Homo sapiens: one gene and its partners. The protein of the gene in region 3 interacts with the protein of the main gene of each other region in a pairwise test. Each region holds a gene or a part of one and is shown on either strand. Other genes may lie near its edges.

The links.
Region 1: the proteins of CIMIP5 (region 3) and GSTA4 interact in binary tests that used the Homo sapiens proteins (3 or more experiments, as listed by UniProt).
Region 2: the proteins of CIMIP5 (region 3) and NRBP1 interact in binary tests that used the Homo sapiens proteins (3 or more experiments, as listed by UniProt).

Annotation. Positions count from the first base shown.
Region 1 is NC_000006.12:52,992,271-52,999,976, forward strand, and holds the start of GSTA4 (glutathione S-transferase A4), read right to left. Parts: upstream 3,015-7,706; 5' UTR 2,979-3,014; intron 2,132-2,978; exon of another isoform or gene 1,992-2,131; 5' UTR 1,974-1,991; coding exon 1,887-1,973; intron 1-1,886. UniProt on the Homo sapiens protein: Conjugation of reduced glutathione to a wide number of exogenous and endogenous hydrophobic electrophiles. This isozyme has a high catalytic efficiency with 4-hydroxyalkenals such as 4-hydroxynonenal (4-HNE).
Region 2 is NC_000002.12:27,438,611-27,442,857, forward strand, and holds the end of NRBP1 (nuclear receptor-binding protein), read left to right. Parts: intron 1-1,155; coding exon 1,156-1,288; intron 1,289-1,792; coding exon 1,793-1,898; intron 1,899-2,041; coding exon 2,042-2,092; intron 2,093-2,194; coding exon 2,195-2,330; intron 2,331-2,516; coding exon 2,517-2,570; intron 2,571-2,656; coding exon 2,657-2,720; intron 2,721-2,956; coding exon 2,957-3,012; intron 3,013-3,097; coding exon 3,098-3,202; 3' UTR 3,203-3,649; downstream 3,650-4,247. Other genes in the region: KRTCAP3 (keratinocyte-associated protein 3), read left to right, coding at 3,803-3,830, 3,969-4,153, 4,232-4,247. UniProt on the Homo sapiens protein: Required for embryonic development. Plays a role in intestinal epithelial cell fate and proliferation, thereby involved in the architectural development of the intestine potentially via the regulation of Wnt-responsive genes.
Region 3 is NC_000002.12:11,136,128-11,143,245, forward strand, and holds part of CIMIP5 (ciliary microtubule inner protein 5), read left to right. Parts: intron 1-4,382; coding exon 4,383-4,422; intron 4,423-7,118.

The DNA of each region.
Region 1 (7,706 bases), on a different chromosome or scaffold from region 3:
TATAAAATCAATATACTTAGGTCTATAGTGACACAAAGAATTGAATAACTGAAGAAATGAGTGGAGATAAATCTTCCTTATATAAAAATTCCAAATGTAGATACTCCCTCACCCAGGAGGTAGAGCTTAATTCTCATCATTTTGAATGTGGGCTGGACTTCATGATCTGCTTCAGAAGAATACAAGGAAACATAGTAACTTTAAAATGCAGCAACCTGGCAGAGACTACCTTAACCATGTGATCCAGGTTAATACTGCCAGTGACAACTCATGTTGATACGTAACCCCTAATATGATGACGTGAACATACTTCACCTCTGTGGCATTCTTTCCCCAAACCCATAACCTCAGTCTAATCATGAAAAAAACAAGATAAACCCAATTTGTAGAGGATTCTACAAAAATATCTGACCAGTGCTTTTCAAAACCGTCAAGATGGTAAAATGAAGGAAACGACTGGGAAATTGTCATGGATTGTTGGCAACTATGGAAACAGGATGAATAAATATAATGTTGGATCGCGGGATAGTAAAAGGACATTAGCAAAGGGCCGGGCGTGGTGGTTCACACCTGTAATCCCAGTACTTTGAGAGGCCCAGGTGGGTGCATCACTTGAGGTCTGGAGCTCAAGATCAGCCTGGCCAACATGGAGAAACCCTGTCTCTACTAAAAAAATACAAAAATTAGCTGGTCGTGGTGGTGTGCACCTGTAGTCCCAGCTACTAGGTAGGCTGAGGCAGGGGAATTGCTTGATCCTGGGAGGCGGAGGTTGCAGTGAGCCGAGATCACACCACTGCACTCCAGCCTGGGCTACAGAGCCAGCCTCCGTCAAAAAAAAACCCAGAACATTAGTAGAAAAAACAGTGAAATCTGAATAAAGTCTGTAGTTTAGTTAGTCATGCACCAATGTTAATTTCGTAATATGACATGGTGATGTAAGATGTTATCATTAAGGGAGACTGAATGAGGGACTGTATTATTTTACAACTTTTCTATAAATCTGAAAATATTCCCAAATATAAATTTGTAAAAAATGAAGAGGAAACTTACAGGTTTTTAAAATACCGAAAGAAACATAACCATTTTAAATGTAATGCGTAGACCAATGTCTAGATCCAAACTAAAACAAACTATAAAAACAAACAAACAAACAAAATGCCTGTTTGAGACAATCAGACTGAAGGTTAGATGACAAAGAATTGCTAATTTTGTTGGATGTGATAATAATATTGTTACATTTTAAAATCCTCATCTGTTAGAGGAAAATGTTGAGGAACTCCCAGATGAAATGTTATGATGTTTGGATTTTGCTTTAAAATACTCCCACAAAACAAGGGAAGGGAGGTGATAGATGAAACAAGATTAGCATAGAGCTGATGATTGCTGAAGTCGGGTGATGAGTACATAGAATTCATGGCAATGTTCTCTCTACATTTATTGGTATTTGAAAATTTCCATACTAAGAAGCTAAAAGAACAGAACGAAAACAAAAACAGACACACACACATATGTAAGCAAGATACCAAGGCTGCCAGTTTGAAGCCACTGAAGAAAACAAGAAATTTACCCTGAGAATGCATAATTAATAAGAGCTCAGAGTAACTGACAATTTTCAGGTAAATTTCCTTTCTTCTTATTAATAAATATTCACTGGTGCTAGATCAGAAGCCAATAATTAAGTAAAAGTCAAAAGGAAAATAGAATTCCATCAACTACGTTCTAATTATAAAGAAAAATCCCTTCAGGGATGGTATCTGACTCAGTGAAGCGTGCCTGTGATTTTGGTGGACGAGAACTAGAACTGAACGGTGCTTCAAAACGTATTTTTCTTTCAAAGGTCTCAAAAGCTGTATGACAAATCCGTGAAGAAACAGCATATAAGGTACCTCGACTCCGGCGGCAGCTAAAACCCATCTCACGGACTCCATCCGGCCTCTTCCGTTGGGATAGTGGAGCTTGGGCCTTGCTGCCATGATAGCTTTTCAGGCTTTCTGAAATACAAATGCAGCAGCTCGTCGCAGACCAACAGTCCCAATTTCGCGTCTTCAACCCAGTGCTCAGGGGCGAAATGAATATTCAGGATTTTGGCACGGGAAACTGTTCTTTATTTTTGTTGCTGCATTTTCCCTCACTCAAGAAAAAAAAACCACCATTTTAAAACATGGAGAAAAAAACCTTGGCTTTTATATGATTTCTATTTATGACTTCTTATCCTGGATCTTGGGAAGCTGGGGCCATTTGTTGTAAAAACATATGTGCTAGCAGTACGGGATTTCACAAATTCAGAATATTATATATTTTGACCTCGAGAATCTCAGATTTTCCAAATTCAGCTGGGGGATAGGGGGTGGCAGGCGTTGAAGAGGGTAGCGAAGGAAAATCGCACAGCCACTGGAAGCTCTTCAAGTATTCATGCTTTTACATACATCATCATATTTTATTATCACGGCAACTGGAAGGTGAACAGGCCGAGTACTACTACTGTCTGCAAAATGTGCGTCCACCGTCACGCATGCGGTGGCTGCGCCCCCCGGGTCCCGCGTGTCCACCACCCCTACAGGGAGATGAGCCCCCGGCCTTGTAAAACGAGCCGGGGGCCAGGGCTTGGCCATCTGAGATCGCACTCTCCCATGCTCGTCTTCCCCGCTCAGCCCATGCAGGGGCGTAGCGGCAGCCCAGCCAGGCCCGGGGACGATCCGAGCCCACCTTCCACCAATGCATTCAGACTCCGCAGAAGGGGTTTAAAAAAAAATACGCACACTGAGCCAAGAAGGACCCCAGCTCCAGCCAAGGGGCCCACCTCTGCCCAGACTGGATGGAGCAGGAGGACAAAGGACAAGAGGAAGAAAAGACAAGAGAAGGACTGAACTGGGGGAGTGAGGGAAGAATGCGAGAGTGAGACTCAGAGAGTAAAGGGGAGGGAAAAAAAAGAAGAGAGAAAGGGCGAGGAAGGGGGCGACCGCAGGAGGGAGACAGACCTGGAGTCCACTCGGAGGCCTGGAGCCGCACAAAGCGCCAGGTCAGCGGTCCCGGCTGGGTGAGACCAGCAGGCGGCTCTAGCGCGCGGGAGCTGGGCGAGGCTCCGGGACGACCTCACCAATGGAGACTGCAGTATTTAGCATGCCCCACCCATCTGCAAGGCATTCTGGATAGTGTCAAAACAGCCGGAAATCAAGTCCGTTTATCTCAAACTTTAGCATTTTGGGAATAAATGATATTTGCTATGCTGGTTAAATTAGATTTTAGTTAAATTTCCTGCTGAAGCTCTAGTACGATAAGCAACTTGACCTAAGTGTAAAGTTGAGACTTCCTTCAGGTTTATATAGCTTGTGCGCCGCTTGGGTACCTCGGATGTGAGGGCGATCTGGCTGCGACATCTGTCACCCCATTGATCGCCAGGGTTGATTCGGCTGATCTGGCTGGCTAGGCGGGTGTCCCCTTCCTCCCTCACCGCTCCATGTGCGTCCCTCCCGAAGCTGCGCGCTCGGTCGAAGAGGACGACCATCCCCGATAGAGGAGGACCGGTCTTCGGTCAAGGGTATACGAGTAGCTGCGCTCCCCTGCTAGAACCTCCAAACAAGCTCTCAAGGTCCATTTGTAGGAGAACGTAGGGTAGTCAAGCTTCCAAGACTCCAGACACATCCAAATGAGGCGCTGCATGTGGCAGTCTGCCTTTCTTTTGACCCATTACCCATCTAAGTTAGATGCTTTTTTAAATGTTTTTTAATTTTTAAATTTTTAATTTTTTTCATTATTTATTTTTTATTTTTGAGACGGATCTCGGCTCACTGTAACCTCCACCTCCCGGGTTCAAGCGATTCTCCTGACTCAGCCTCCCGAGTAGCTGGGATTACAGGCGCGCGCCACCATGCCCGGCTAATTTTTCTATTTTTAGTAAAGACGGGGTTTCGCCATGTTGACCAGGGTGGTCTTGAACTCCTGACGTCAGGTGATCCTCCTGCCTCGTGCTGGGATTGCAGGCGTGAGCCACCGCTCCCGGCCCTTAGATGCTTTTTAATCAGCAAGTACGCAATGCTTTCCTGACAGGAATGTCAAGTCCGTCAGGAAATCCACATAAGGGTGTTAAGCAGGCAAAGTACCACATACAGATTAAAATCAAAAGCACTGTCAACGCTTATTTAATTTATACAGTAGACCCTAACTTTTCTAATTTTGTGTATACATATATATACATGTATACATGTATACAAACATACATATTTTCTTCTTTCTTTCTTCATCTCAGTGGGACATCTTGAGATTTCTCTTCATTTTGTACATTTTAGAGACAAGTGCTCTATAGTCACGGTCTCAAGTCAGCACCTGTTTGGAAGGGGGTCTTTGGAGTTGGGGGTGGTGCTAAAAGAATAATTTGGCTGGCAAGTTAGTTAAAACATTAAAAATATATTAAAACTATCAGGGCTATATTATGGAACAATTGCAAAATTCACATGGATTTCAAAGTTTGAAATATATGCCTTCGAAAATAAATTTTGTTTTTAGAGGCAGCTTCTGCTATTTCTCAGGCTATAGATGTTGTTATTTTCTTCACCCACGGGGGCGCTCGAGAGTACCTTGCTTGACAAGCCTGGGTGCTGAACAATTGCAGCCGCTAACATGATCAGATTTTATTTTCAATAGGTTTCTCTGGCCAAAGTGAGGCGAATGAATTGGGGTAGTAGGGGTAGAGAAAGAAACCTCTTGTGTCTGTGTAAATTAAAGTAGCACCATGAGTTTGAAGAATATGAGTAAGAAAAGGTGAAATACTAAGGAGGTAGGTGGTAAAGCAATTGCTAATCAGATCAAAGGGAAGGGAGGAGGAAGAAAAGTCTAGAATGATGCCCTGTCCAACACACACACACACACACACACACACACACACACACACACACACACACACACACACTTCTTGTCTTTTTTTTAATAACATGTATTGTCATCTAACAGGACTTTTTTATTTATTTGTCTGTAGATTCCTAGAATGTAAATTCCACGAGATCGAGGATTTTTGCGCTTTTGGTTTTCCTTTTGTACATCCTGGTTAGTATAGAGTAGGTATTCAGAGAACACTTGTTGAATGAATGAATGAGCAATGCTTTGGTTTCTAGTTCCATAAAGAGCGGAGAAGGAAGACAAAGTTTGGGGAAAATGGGTTGACTTGTCTTTTGTTGCTATGAACCATCCAGCTGGAAATACCCACTAGACAGTTGAAAAAGCCATTGAGGGCTGGGCGCAGTGGCTCACGCCTGTAATCCCAGCACTTTGAGAGGCTGAGGCGGGCGGATCACCTGAGGTCAGGAGTTCAAGACCAGCGTGGCCAACATGGTGAAACCCTGTTTCCACTAAAAATACAAAATTAGTCGGGCGTGGTGGCCTGTTCCTGTAGTCCCAGCTATTCAGGAGGCTGAGGCGGGAGAATCGCTTGAACCTGGAAGGCGGAGGTTGCAGTGAGCCGTGATCACGCCCCTGCAGTACAAGCTGGGCGAGAAAGTAAGACTCCCTATAAAAAAAAAACCGAAAAGACAAAAACCAACCCAGTGAGGACTCAGTAGAGAGAACTGAAATCGGTTGAATTGGTGGCAAAAGAATGAGCTCATCCAGAGAAGGTATGCAGGGTAAGAAGAGAGGTAAGTCAAGGACCACTGGGCACCCCAAAAGTCAGAAAAGTCGTTTTCAAAAAAGACTTAACAGTGTATATCCAATCATATTTCTAGTTCTGATTTAACAGCAATTACTCAGTTTAACATGAGTAGGAAGCCATATTTTCCAGCCTTGCTGAAAGTGGTCATTCTTTTTTTCTTGCTTTTAGTTTATAATTAAGGAAGGTTTATTGAACATCTGTGCTGAGGTCTACTGGATTTACTGAGACATAAAAAATAAATTATAAAATCCAGTTCTTGCCCTCAAGGAGCTTATTTTTTAATTGACAAATAAAATTGTATATTTTTACTGTGTACAACATGATATTTTAAAGTACAGTCATCCCTCAGTATCTGTGGGGGATTGGTTTCAGAACCCCCTCAGCTACCAAAATCAGACCATGCTCCAGTCCCTTATATAAAACGGTGTAGTATTTGCATGTAACTTAACACACATCCTTTGGTTTACTTTAAATCATCTCTAGATTTTTTATGTTAACCTAAATAACAAACAGAAAGAGGCTCTTTAAAAATATTTATTTGGAAATTGAATTTTGCAATAGGAATATGCATGCCATAGTAAATTATGTGTGTATTCAGGGAGGTAAAATAAAACAAAGATTTTTAAAGGACAAAAATGACGATGGCATAATTGTTTTAAAATAAGTATCCTTTGCTGCAAAGATGAATAACAAGGGCAATAATCCCAGTATTTTTTTGTGTAAGACTGCAATGGCCATTGTGGAAGGTTGTGGTTCTTATAGTCTTTTGTGATCGTGTGTTGTTGTTGTTGTTGTTGTTGTTGTTGTTTGTTTGTCTTTTGGAGACAGGGTCTTGCTGTATTGCCCAGGCTGGAATGCAATGGTGCGATCAGGGCTCACTACAGCTTCGAGGCTCAAGTGATCCTCCCACCTCAGCCTCCTGAGTAGCTGAGACTACAGGCGCATGACACTACTGGCTAATTTTTAGTTTTTGTAGAGAAGGGGTCTAACTATGCTGCCCAGGCTGGTCTCAAACTCCTAGGCTCAAGTGATCCTCCCACCTCTGCCTCTTAAAGTGCTGTGATTACAGGCATGTACCTCTGCACCTGGCTTTTGTGATTGCTTTTATTAGACATTTAAGCCAAGCACTTGTCTCCATTTGCTTAGTTCCAACTGGTTGAATTATACCAAATTGCTAATATCTTACTGTTTTTAACCTTCAAAAATGGCAGTTTCAGATGTCCAATCTTATAAAATAGAGGCAACATCATCCTAGAGTTAGGGAAACAGGAGTGTAGGAGAGCCAGGGTGACAGCATTTTAAAATCAACTCCATCTTACAATGAGAACACATAGACACAGGGAGGGGAACAACACACACCAGGGCCAGTCGGGGGGTGGGGGAGTGAGGGGAGGGGGAGCATTAGGACAAATATCTAATACATACCGGGCTTAAAACCTAGATGATGGGTTAATAGGTGCAGCAAACCACCATGGCACACTACACCATGGCACAACTACACGTTGTGCGCTTGTATTCTGGAACTTAAACTAGATTAAAAAACAAAAAAATCAGCTCCATCTTAAGATGTCTACAGCTGAGGAAATAGCTTAATAATACCTGGAAGGACAAATTCCTATGACAGTAGAATGTCCAGATGTTCCAATATTGCATAATGCTAAACACCTTTAAGGTAATTATAGTCATGCTTTCACGTATTTACGCATGAAAATGCCAAGGATACCTTTCTTTAAATTAACAAAGTACTAATTTTTTTCATTCTGTTAGCCCACTCGCACGTAGACATTGCTTAGCTTACCTTTTACAGAGATAAGACCCCTATCGAATAAAAACAAAGAAGAGGCATTCCTCCTCTTGCTTTCTGAGAATGCTCTACTCTGTAACTGAGTAGCTTTCAATAAAATGTTACTTCTCATGGCACTGGGTGACTCGCCTTACATTCCTTCCTGTGCGAGATCCAAGAACCCTCTTTTAGGATCTGGATCAGGACACCTTTTTTGGGTAACACTCAGCCTTGTTCACCTGAAAGTGTAACTAAGGTAGCAGCATGACTGCTATTACACAG
Region 2 (4,247 bases), about 16 Mb from region 3:
TCAAGGTTAAAAGCAGGAAAGCAGGTTAATTGTCATGGGACATGCAGGAGGTAGAAAAGGAGGCGGTGGTGGAACATGGTGGCTCATACTTTTAATCCCAGCACTTTTGGAGGCTGAGGTGGGAGGATCACTTGAGCTCAGGAGTTCGAGACTAGCCTGGGCAACGTGGTAAAACCCTATCTCTATGAAAAAATAAAAATTATCTGGGTATGGTGGCACATGCCTGTGGTCCCAGCTACTCTGGAAGCTGAAGTGGGAGGATTGCTTGAGCCCAGGAGGTTGAGGCAGCAGTGAGCTGTGATTGTGCCACTGTACTCCAGCCTGGTTGGCACAGCAAGACCCTGTCTCAGAAAAAAGAAAGAAAGAAAATAAGGCAGAATCGTTAGAGGAATCCTGGGAAATTCGGTGAATTCAGTGATTGTGGGCAAAGGAAATTGTGATACTAGGCTTGTGAAATAAAAAAATGGTGAATATTGATCACATTGGGTAAGTTTGGGAAGAGAGAAGCTAAATTTGGCAAGATTTAGAAAAGAAGATAGGCAGTGAGTTGACTAATAAAGCAGAGAGGTAGAAACTAAGGAAAAAGAAAGTGTGGGGCCGGGCGCGGTGTCTCATGCCTGTAATACCGGCACTTTGGGAGGCTGAGGCGGGTGGATCACGAGGTCAGGAGATTGAGACCATCCTGGCTAACATGGTGAAACCGTCTCTACTGAAAATACAAAAAATTAGCCGGGCATGGTGGTGGGCACCTGTAGTCCCAGCTACTCGGGAGGCTGAGGCAGGAGAATGGCGTGAACCCGGTAGGCAGAGGTTGCAGTGAGCTGAGATTGCGCCACTGCACTCCAGCCTGGGCGACAGAGCGAGACTCCGTCTCAAAAAAAAAAAAAAAAAAAATTGTGAACATTAAAAAAGAAAGCTTGTGGTTGGAGAGCAGAAAAATAATTAAAACCAGAAAGGCAGTGGATGGTATCTTTCATATAATATCTTACAGTTTTTGAAGCCCTTTCAGGTGCATTTTTCAATATATTGTTTTCTCAGCAAGTGCTGAGCACCTACTATGTACAAAGCCTTGTGCTAAGTAGAATGAGAGCTATAAAGATGAACACACTGGGGGCTTGCCAGATGCCTGCTCCAGTTCCTTGTTTCCTTTTCTAGGAGTTCATTCAAAAGTGCCTGCAGTCTGAGCCTGCTCGCAGACCAACAGCCAGAGAACTTCTGTTCCACCCAGCATTGTTTGAAGTGCCCTCGCTCAAACTCCTTGCGGCCCACTGCATTGTGGGACACCAACGTGAGTCGTCTTGGCCCTATGGGGAATAGTCTTCCAATCTGGAGCCCTGTAACTATCACTGGCATGCTTGTTTTCCTCTTTATTTCCAAAGGGATTCTTTTTTTTTTTTTTTTTTTTTTTTTTTTTTTTTTTTGAGACAGAGTCTCACTCTCTCTCAGGCTGGAGTGCAATGGCTTGATCTCAGCTCATTGCAACCTCCAGCTCCCAGGCTCAAGCGATTCTTGTGCCTTAGCCTCCCGAAGAGCTGGGATTACAGGCATGTGCCACCATGCCTGGGTAATTTTTGTACTTTTAGTAGAGATGGGGTTTCGCCATGTTGGCCAGGCTGGTCTTGAACTGGCGTCAAGTGATCTGTCCGCCTCGGCTTCCCAAAGTGCTGGGATTACAGGCATGAGCCACTGTGCCAGGCCTCCAAAGGGATTCTTTACCCCTTTGCCTGCATGCCTTCTTTGACATTTAATCTGACTATCCCTTCATAATATCCCACTCCATCATGCCCTCCAGACATGATCCCAGAGAACGCTCTAGAGGAGATCACCAAAAACATGGATACTAGTGCCGTACTGGCTGAAATCCCTGCAGGACCAGGAAGAGAACCAGTTCAGACTTTGTGAGTAACTGAGAGGGTCTGAAAGGGGCAGATTGGTCACGACCACTCTTGAGGCTCTGTAAACTGTCCATTCTCTGGGAATGCTTGAATTTGCTATTTTGCTTGTTTCTTTCCTTCCATCTCCTTTCTCTTTTCTCGTCCAGGTACTCTCAGTCACCAGCTCTGGAATTAGATAAATTCCTTGAAGATGTCAGGTGAGAGCAGAGTGAGAAGCAGGCTTTCTTGAGGAAGCAGGCGGGGTTGGGTATCCTAAGGCGTTCACAGAGCCCATGTGACCTGTCTTCATCTCCCTCCAGGAATGGGATCTATCCTCTGACAGCCTTTGGGCTGCCTCGGCCCCAGCAGCCACAGCAGGAGGAGGTGACATCACCTGTCGTGCCCCCCTCTGTCAAGACTCCGACACCTGAACCAGCTGAGGTGGAGACTCGCAAGGTGGGGGCTGTGTGGGTGTGGATTGTCTCCATGGTTGTGGTGGAAGGGAGAGAGGACATCTCAAATAAGGCTCTATCCTTTAGAGAAAATGCTCCCTAGCAGCCATGCCCTATGGGCTCGAAAGACGTCTAGGTATTGGGTTTTTTATGGACAGGTCTCTAGAGTGACCCTCTCTTCCCTCCCTAGGTGGTGCTGATGCAGTGCAACATTGAGTCGGTGGAGGAGGGAGTCAAACACCACGTAAGGCTCAGGGCTAGGGTTGCGCAGGGCTAGTAGCCAGAGGGTAGGGAAGAAAAGTCTCATTTTCTGACTGTCCTATTCTCCAGCTGACACTTCTGCTGAAGTTGGAGGACAAACTGAACCGGCACCTGAGCTGTGACCTGATGCCAAGTGAGTCTCTCCTTTCCCTCAGAGGATGGAGAGTCTATGAGCCTTATCTTTTAGGGACATATTCAGGGGTGGGGGAGGTGACAAGGCAGTAACACATTGACTCACATAGAATGACTATCTTAGACCCTAAAGCAGTGGGTGGATCTGACTGACAGTTTAGCCCTAGTGGGGCTGTCTGAAGGGCCCCAGGTCCCTCAGTCCCGTACTGTACTCACCCCCTCCTGTTTCTTTGTCAGATGAGAATATCCCCGAGTTGGCGGCTGAGCTGGTGCAGCTGGGCTTCATTAGTGAGGTGAGGTTTCTGCCTTCATCTGCCCTGGCTGCCCCCATGCCTTCTCTTCTCTCAGCCCCCATCTTACTGAGCTCTTCTCCCCCAGGCTGACCAGAGCCGGTTGACTTCTCTGCTAGAAGAGACCTTGAACAAGTTCAATTTTGCCAGGAACAGTACCCTCAACTCAGCCGCTGTCACCGTCTCCTCTTAGAGCTCACTCGGGCCAGGCCCTGATCTGCGCTGTGGCTGTCCCTGGACGTGCTGCAGCCCTCCTGTCCCTTCCCCCCAGTCAGTATTACCCTGTGAAGCCCCTTCCCTCCTTTATTATTCAGGAGGGCTGGGGGGGCTCCCTGGTTCTGAGCATCATCCTTTCCCCTCCCCTCTCTTCCTCCCCTCTGCACTTTGTTTACTTGTTTTGCACAGACGTGGGCCTGGGCCTTCTCAGCAGCCGCCTTCTAGTTGGGGGCTAGTCGCTGATCTGCCGGCTCCCGCCCAGCCTGTGTGGAAAGGAGGCCCACGGGCACTAGGGGAGCCGAATTCTACAATCCCGCTGGGGCGGCCGGGGCGGGAGAGAAAGGTGGTGCTGCAGTGGTGGCCCTGGGGGGCCATTCGATTCGCCTCAGTTGCTGCTGTAATAAAAGTCTACTTTTTGCTAAAAGCGTCGTGTGTTCGCGCCTTTCCCGCCAGGGGGAGCGGGCCCGGGGCGGAGGCGGGGCCCAGGTGGGAGGGGGACCCGGGACGGAGGCGGGGCCCAGGTTGGGGCGGGGCCGGGCCCAGGTACAGCGGCCCTGCGGCTGGCGCGGCGGACGGGATGAGGCGCTGCAGTCTCTGCGCTTTCGGTAACTTCCGGGCCCTGGCGTCTCGTCTCCTTACCCTGGGGCTACCCTTGCCCCGTCCTACTGCCCGCGGTTAACCCGCCGCGAGCCGCCTCTCCCCTCCCCGCCCGACTCAACCCTGCCCTCCCCCGTGCTTTGCAGACGCCGCCCGGGGGCCCAGGCGGCTGATGCGTGTGGGCCTCGCGCTGATCTTGGTGGGCCACGTGAACCTGCTGCTGGGGGCCGTGCTGCATGGCACCGTCCTGCGGCACGTGGCCAATCCCCGCGGCGCTGTCACGCCGGAGTACACCGTAGCCAATGTCATCTCTGTCGGCTCGGGGCTGCTGGTGAGCGCGGCAGGCGACCCGGGCGGGGGCCGGGCTCCCGGAGAGCCCAGCAGGCCAAAGGCTTTGTGTCTTCCACAGAGCGTTTCCGTGGGAC
Region 3 (7,118 bases):
AGTTTGATGTAATCCCATCTGTCTATCTGCTTTTGTTGCCTGTCCTTTGTGTGGCATATCCATGGAATAATTGCCAAGACCAATGTCATGAAGCTTCTTCCTATGTTTTTGACTGGATTGGTATGTATCATGTTAGAAAGGATCCAATTTCATTCTTTTGCATGTGAAAACTTCTGCACAGCAAAGACAACAATTAACAGAGTGAAAAGGCAACTTACAGAATGACAGAAAATATTTACAAACTGAGTAAATGTGGGAGGAAAGGTGAGGAAGGAGTAAAGGATGACAGGTCTCAGCTTGAATAATTAATAAGGAGGAGAAGAAAATGATGAAGATGCTGAGTTCTGGTGAGTTTTAAATGCCTGAACCACGTCTAGATGGAGCTGCCCAGGAGGTAGTTGAGTGTGAGAGTCAGGAGTTGCGCATTAAAAACCCATCCAGAAGGGGAGGATGAGGACTGACTGCAAATGGACACAGGTGTTTTGGAGGATGAGGACTGACTGCAAATGGACACAGGTGTTTTGGGGGTGATGAAATGTTCTGGAATCAGAAAGTGGTGATGGTTGCCCAACTCCGTGAATATATTAAAAGTCATTTAATTGTGTCCTTTAAAAGGTGAATCTTATGGAATGTGAATTCTATCTCAATTTTAGAAGGAAACGGGTGGGCATTGGCCCCAGCGATGTGAATAAGCTCTCTCTGGAAGAGCACAATGGATCAGAAGAGGCGAGGATGCAGGACAGAACTTGTAACATTTACTAGAAGGGCAGAGACGCTGCCAGGAAACACCAGAGAAGAAAGCCAGGGGCACAAGGAGGCATAAAGACCAAGGGGAAAGAGTTTTGCAAGGCCTGGAAAGCCCAAAGAGGAATGTGCAAGGCAGTGCTGCCCAACGGAAATACAATGTGAGCCACACACATAGCTTAAATTTTCTAGTAGCCTGCTTATAAAAATGAAACAAGAGGTCGGGCACAATCGCTCACACCTATAATCCCAGCACTTTGGGAAGCTGAGGTGGGCAGATCACCTGAAGTCAGGAGTTCGAGACTAGCCTGGCCAACATGGTGAAACCCCATCTCTACTAAAAACACAAAAATTAGCCAGGCATGGTAGTGTGCACCTGTAATCCCAGCTACTCAGGAGGCTGACGCAGGGAGAATTGCTTGAACCCGGCAGGCAGAGGCTGCAATCAGCCGAGATTGTGCCACTGCACTCCAGCCTGGGTGACAGAGTGAGACTCCATCTCAAAAAAAAACAAAAAACAAAAAGAACTTGTAGAAATAAAAATATATAAAGTTGAAATATAAGACATAACTGAAGTGAGACTTCATAAACTCAAGACAGGAGAAATTATTCAGAAAATCAAGACAGAAAACACAAATGACGAATTAAAAACGTAGAGAAACTGAACAAGAAGGTCCAACCTATCTTTAATCAAAACTCCCAGAGGAGAGAATGGGAGAGAGAATGTCTAAAGAGAAAGTAAGTGAGAATTTTCCAGAACCAAAGAAATGCATGAGTCCACAGATATTGGAGTAGGTGCTCCACAAAAACAGGTGCATTAACAAGAAAGTGAGACATGGAATTCCCAAAGAGGGGGATGCCAGTGTGTTGGTGAAGGAAAAGACCAGCCTGTGATCTTGAGGCATGGCTAGGCCAGTGGGAGCAGGAGGATATGGGGCTTCTGAGGAGGTGTCTAAGAAAGGTTTTATTTTATTTCTTTCTTTCTTTATTTTGAGACGGAGTCTTGCTCTGTCACCCAGGCTGGAGTGCAGTGGTGCCATCTCGGCTCACTGCAAGCTCCGCCTCCCGGGTTCACGCCATTCTCCTGCCTCGGCCTCCCAAGTAGCTGGGACTACAGGTGCCCGCTACCACGCCCGGCTAATTTTTGTATTTTTAGTAGAGACGAGGTTTCACCGTGTTAGCCAGGATGGTCTCGATCTCCTGACCTCGTGATCTGCCTGCCTCGGCCTCCCAGAGTGCTGGGATTACAGGCGTGAGCCACCGCGCCTGGCAGAAAGGTTTTAAAGGAATGTTTATTATCTGATGCACATGACTGTGTAGAAAATAATATTGAGAGGGACTTTTCAGTTTTGTTGGAGCATGTGAAATCAATGATCAGTACATAGAAGCCTAAATAAAATTGGGAGGAAATGTAATTTCTCTATTAGCTCTAGAAAGAATACAAGGTTGTACAAGAACAGAATTGGGGTATATTGCACTCCTTAGTTCACCAGGGGATAACATTTACATAATCATAAGAATCAAAACGATACATATCAATTTAACTGAGATCTATAATGATTTTGAAAGAACAAAGGGAAGGGCAGGGGTAAGAATGATAACTCTTCATCTCCCATAATAGAAAGTCGATAGATAAGTTTAAATTTTAAAAAATATTAAGAAACAGCAGTGGATATGGTGTGGATCTGTGTCCCCACCCAAATCGCATGTTGAATAGTAATCCCCAGTTTTGGAGGTGGGGCCCGGTGGAAGGCGATTGGATCATGCGGGTGGCTTCTCATAAATGGTTTATACCATCCCCATGGTACTGTCCTCACAGTAGTGAGTTCTCACCAGATCTGGTTCTTTTAAAGTGTGTGGCACTTCCCTTCTCTCTCCTTTGCTCCTGCTCTGGCCATGTGACCTGCCTGCTGCCACTTTGCCTTCCACCATGATTGTAAGTTTCCTGAGACCACCCCAGAAGCTAAGCAGATGCCAGCATCCTGCTTCCTGTACAGCCTGTGGAACTGTTAGCCAATTACACCTTCTTTTTTTTATTTTTATTTTTATTTATTTTTATTTTTTGAGACAGAGTCTCACTCTGTCACCCAGGCTGGAGTGCAGTGGCTTGATCTCTGCTCACTGTAACCTCCACCTCCTGGGCTCAAGCGATTCTCCTGCCTCAGCCTCCCTAGTAGCTGGTATTACAGGCGCCCGCCACCATGCCCGGCTAATTTTTGTATTTTTGGTGGAGACAGGGTTTCACCATGTTGGCCAGGCTGGTCTCGAACTCCTGACCTCAGGTGATCCACCCACCTTAGCTTCCCAAAGTGCTGGGATTACAGGCGTGAGCCACCGCACCTGTCCTACACCTTCTTTATAAATTACCCAGTCTCAGGTATTATTTATAGCAAGGCAAGAATGGCATAATACAGCAGTAGAATCCTATTATTTCAAAATATGGATGCAAAGGCCTGAAGAAACAGCTAAAAGGCTGGCAAAGGTTTGACTCTAGGATGTGGGGCTCAGGGGCTGTGAGGATGGGGACAGAGAAGGCTGTTTTTATTATGTTTTGTAGAATTGTTTGACTTTTTAAGATTAGATTCAAATAAAACTAAATGGCCAGTGCAAGCTAATACTATCCTTATGGTCCCTCCCTTTTCCTACCTCTCCCTAGCCTTCCTCTATCACTCACATTGGAAAGTTACAAAGGTTTGGGGATGTGAAAACTTTTTTCTTCAGAGAATGCTTGCCTACTGTAGCCTTCTGAAATGCACAGAGGCAGGGCGAGATGGTAGCCTTTGCTTTCCTTAGGCAGCCCCACCATAGTGACATCATATTTGTCGTTCTAGGAAAAGTCATTGGAAATTGAAATGTTTGTTCCTTTGGTAGGATACACCATAAATACCTGCTTGACACTTGGCATTTGTTTCACTTAAAAATTATTTTGTTCTGGCTGGGCACAGTGGCTCATGCCTGTAATCCCAGCACTTTGGGAGGCCAAGGTGGGTGGACCACCTGAGGTCAGGAATTCAAGACCAGCCTGACCAATATGGTGAAACCCCATCTACACTAATAATACAAAAATTAGCCGGGTGTGGTGGCATGCACCTGTAGTCCCAGCTACTTGGGAGGCTGAGACAGGGGAATTGCTTGAACCTGGGAGGCAGAGGTTGCAGTGAGCTGAGATTATGCCACTGCACTTCAGCCTAGGTGACAGAGCGAGACTCCCTCTCAAAAAAAAAAAAAAAAAAAGGCTGGGCGTGGTGGCTCACGCCTGTAATCCCAGCACTTTGGGAGGCCGAGGCGGGCGGATCACAAGGTCAGGAGATCGAGACCACGGTGAAACCCCATCTCTACTAAAAATACAAAAAATTAGCCAGGCGCGGTGGCGGGTGCCTGTAGTCCCAGCTACTCGGGAGGCTGAGGCAGGAGAATGGCGTGAACCCGGGAGGCGGAGCTTGCAGGGAGCCAAGATTGCGCCACGGCACTCCAGCCTGGGTGACAGAGTGAGCCTCCGTCTTAAAAAAAAAAAAAAAAAAAAAAAATTATTTAGTTCTTCCACGTGATACATTGTTGCATTGACTTGACACAGTGAAAGTCATTGGTAAAAATGTCCTGGAAGGAACTCACACAGCCAACATGTTTTTCCTTTCCAGGATTCAGAACTGGAGTTTCCTGAAAGACTATGACCCAATGGTAAGGTAAAATATGTTCCTGCCAAACATACTTGCAATTGAATATTACTCATTCTTTCCATCATTCAACTAACATTTATTGAAGATCTACTCTACACCAGATACTGGATGTGCAGCGATGAGTCAAATACACTCTTGTTTCAAGGAATGCAGGGTCCGTTGGATAGAAAACAGTTACATGAAGCATTTAGAAATGTGTTTCCCTCAGTGTTTCTTAATTTTATTAAGATGAACCAATTGGAAATGACAGGCATCTGTTGCTGAAATGTCTCCCCTGATTGAGGATGGCAGCAATATGTAGTCATATCTGTGTGGCGTGCCCGAGAAGGACAATGAGATTGGGTAAAAATACTTTGTAAACAAATTCCCTGACTCTGGTATCACCACCTCCAATCCATCCTCCACATTGCCACCAGACTAATTTCCCTAAACGGCAGAACTGGCCATGTAGCTCCCCTGATTAAAATGCTTCAGTAAGTCTGAAATTTTCAGGTGGCTTACAAAGCCTCCTGTGATCTAAACCATCTATCTCCCCAGCCTCATTACCCACCCCACACAGACCCCACAACACACTTTTTTTTTTTTTTTTTTTTTTTTTGAGATGGAGTCTTGCTCTGTCGCCCAGGCTGGAGTGCAGTGGTGCAATCTTGGCTCACTGCAATCTCCACCTCCTGGATTCTAGTGATTCTCCTGCCTCAGCCTCCTGAGTAGCTGAGATTATAGGTGCACACCACCATGCCTGGCTAATATTTGTATTTTTAGTAGAGAGGGGGTTTCACTATGTTAGCCAGGCTGGTCTCGAACTCCTGACCTCAATTAGCCAACTGCCTCGGCTTCCCAAAGTGCTGGGATTACAGGCATGAGCCACCACACCCAGCCCCCACAACACTCTTTTATCTATGCCTTTGGGCATGCTCGTCCCCTGCTGGAATGTCCTTCCACCTGGTCAGCCTGATGGACTCCTATTCACTCTTCAAGATCCTGCTCTAGTGCCCCCTCTTCTAGGGAATCTCACCTTCCTGGGCAGGCTTGACCAGATCACTCCTTCCTTTGATTCACCAGCATATCTCACCCGTTATTTTGGTATTCCATGTAATGTAATACTGCAATGCCCAATTTCACCAGCTGTGAACTCCTTAAGAGAAAGGATGAGGCCAGGAATGGTGGCCCATGCCTGTACTTGGGGAGGCTGAGGTGGGAGGATCACCTGGACCCATGAGTTCAAGACCAGCCTGGGCAACATAGGGAGACCCTGTCTCTACAAAAATAACATTATTTTTTAAAAAGAGAAAAGATGAATATGAATTCATCACTGCACCCTATCACAACCCTAGCATTTGCCCCATCCCCCAGAGACCATAAAAGAGTGAACATTCAGTTCATGCTGGATGAATGAATGAATGGAAAGATGGATCTCACTACAAAAAGGATGATCAGCTGGATGCGGTGGCTCACGCCTGTAATCTCAACACTTTGGGAGGCCGAGGCAGGTGGATCACCTGAGGTTGGGAGTTCAAGACCAGCCTGACCAACATGGAGAAACCCCATCTCTACTAAAAATACAAAAATTAGCCGGGTGTGCTGGTGCATGCCTGTAATTCCAGCTACTCGGGAGGCTGAGGCAGGAGAATAGCTTGAACCTGGGAGGCAGAGGTTGCAGTGAGCAGAGATCACGCCATTGCACTCCAGCCTGGGCAACAAGAGCAAAATTCAGTCTCAAAAAAAAAAAAAAAAAAAAAGATGGTCAAAGAACCAACCTGGAAGATGAGCAATATGGAAAGTCACTCGAGGGGGTGGCCATGCTTACCTGGACCCTGCCAGGTTGAGGAAAGTTTTAATGCCTGCATTGTGGACCTGCTGGACTTGTTGCTGTCTATTCTGGAGGGAAAATTCAGCTCATGGGACCTGATATCCCGACCTGTGCATCTGGTCTGGGCTTCCAGCCTGTAAGAGTCTCTCCCTGCTAAGGGCTACATGATAGCAACCTGACTACTGAAATCTGCATCATGGCCAAAGGGTGGAGCCACCTCGGCATGGACTTTGCCAGGTGAAAACCATGATCTCCTTACTTGACAGGTCATGTCATTTCTATTAGACACAGGGTAGCAGAAAGGTAACCCTAAACAGGGGCAGGAAGAGCTGAGGATGTTTTCCCACTTGTCAGATTTTTTTTTTTTTTTTTTTTTTTTGAGATACGGTCTCACTCTGTTGCCCAGGCTGGAGTGAAGTAGCATGATCATGGCTCACTGCAGCCTCAACCTCCTGGGCTCTAGTGATCCTCCCACCTCAGCCTCCTGAGTAGCTGGGGCTTACATGCACGTGCCCCCACACCCAACTAATTTTTGTATTTTTTTGTAGAGACGGGGTCTCACCATGTTGCCCAGGCTGGTCTGAATCTTTCCGCCAAGGCTTCTCAAAGTGCCAGGATTAAAGGCAAGAGCCATGGTGCCTGGCCATCAGATTACATTTAGTCATTCATTCATGCATGCATCCGTTACAGAGTTTACCCAAACGCACGTTCACATATGGCCAAAACAGCACTACTCATAAAAGCCCCAAACTAGAATCAACCCAAGTGTGATCAGTGGTGATACAGGTGAATAACTTGTGTGATATTCACACAGTTCACACCATGGAGTACAGTTCACACCATGGAGTACAGTTCACACCATGGAGTAACGTACAGCACTGAGAATG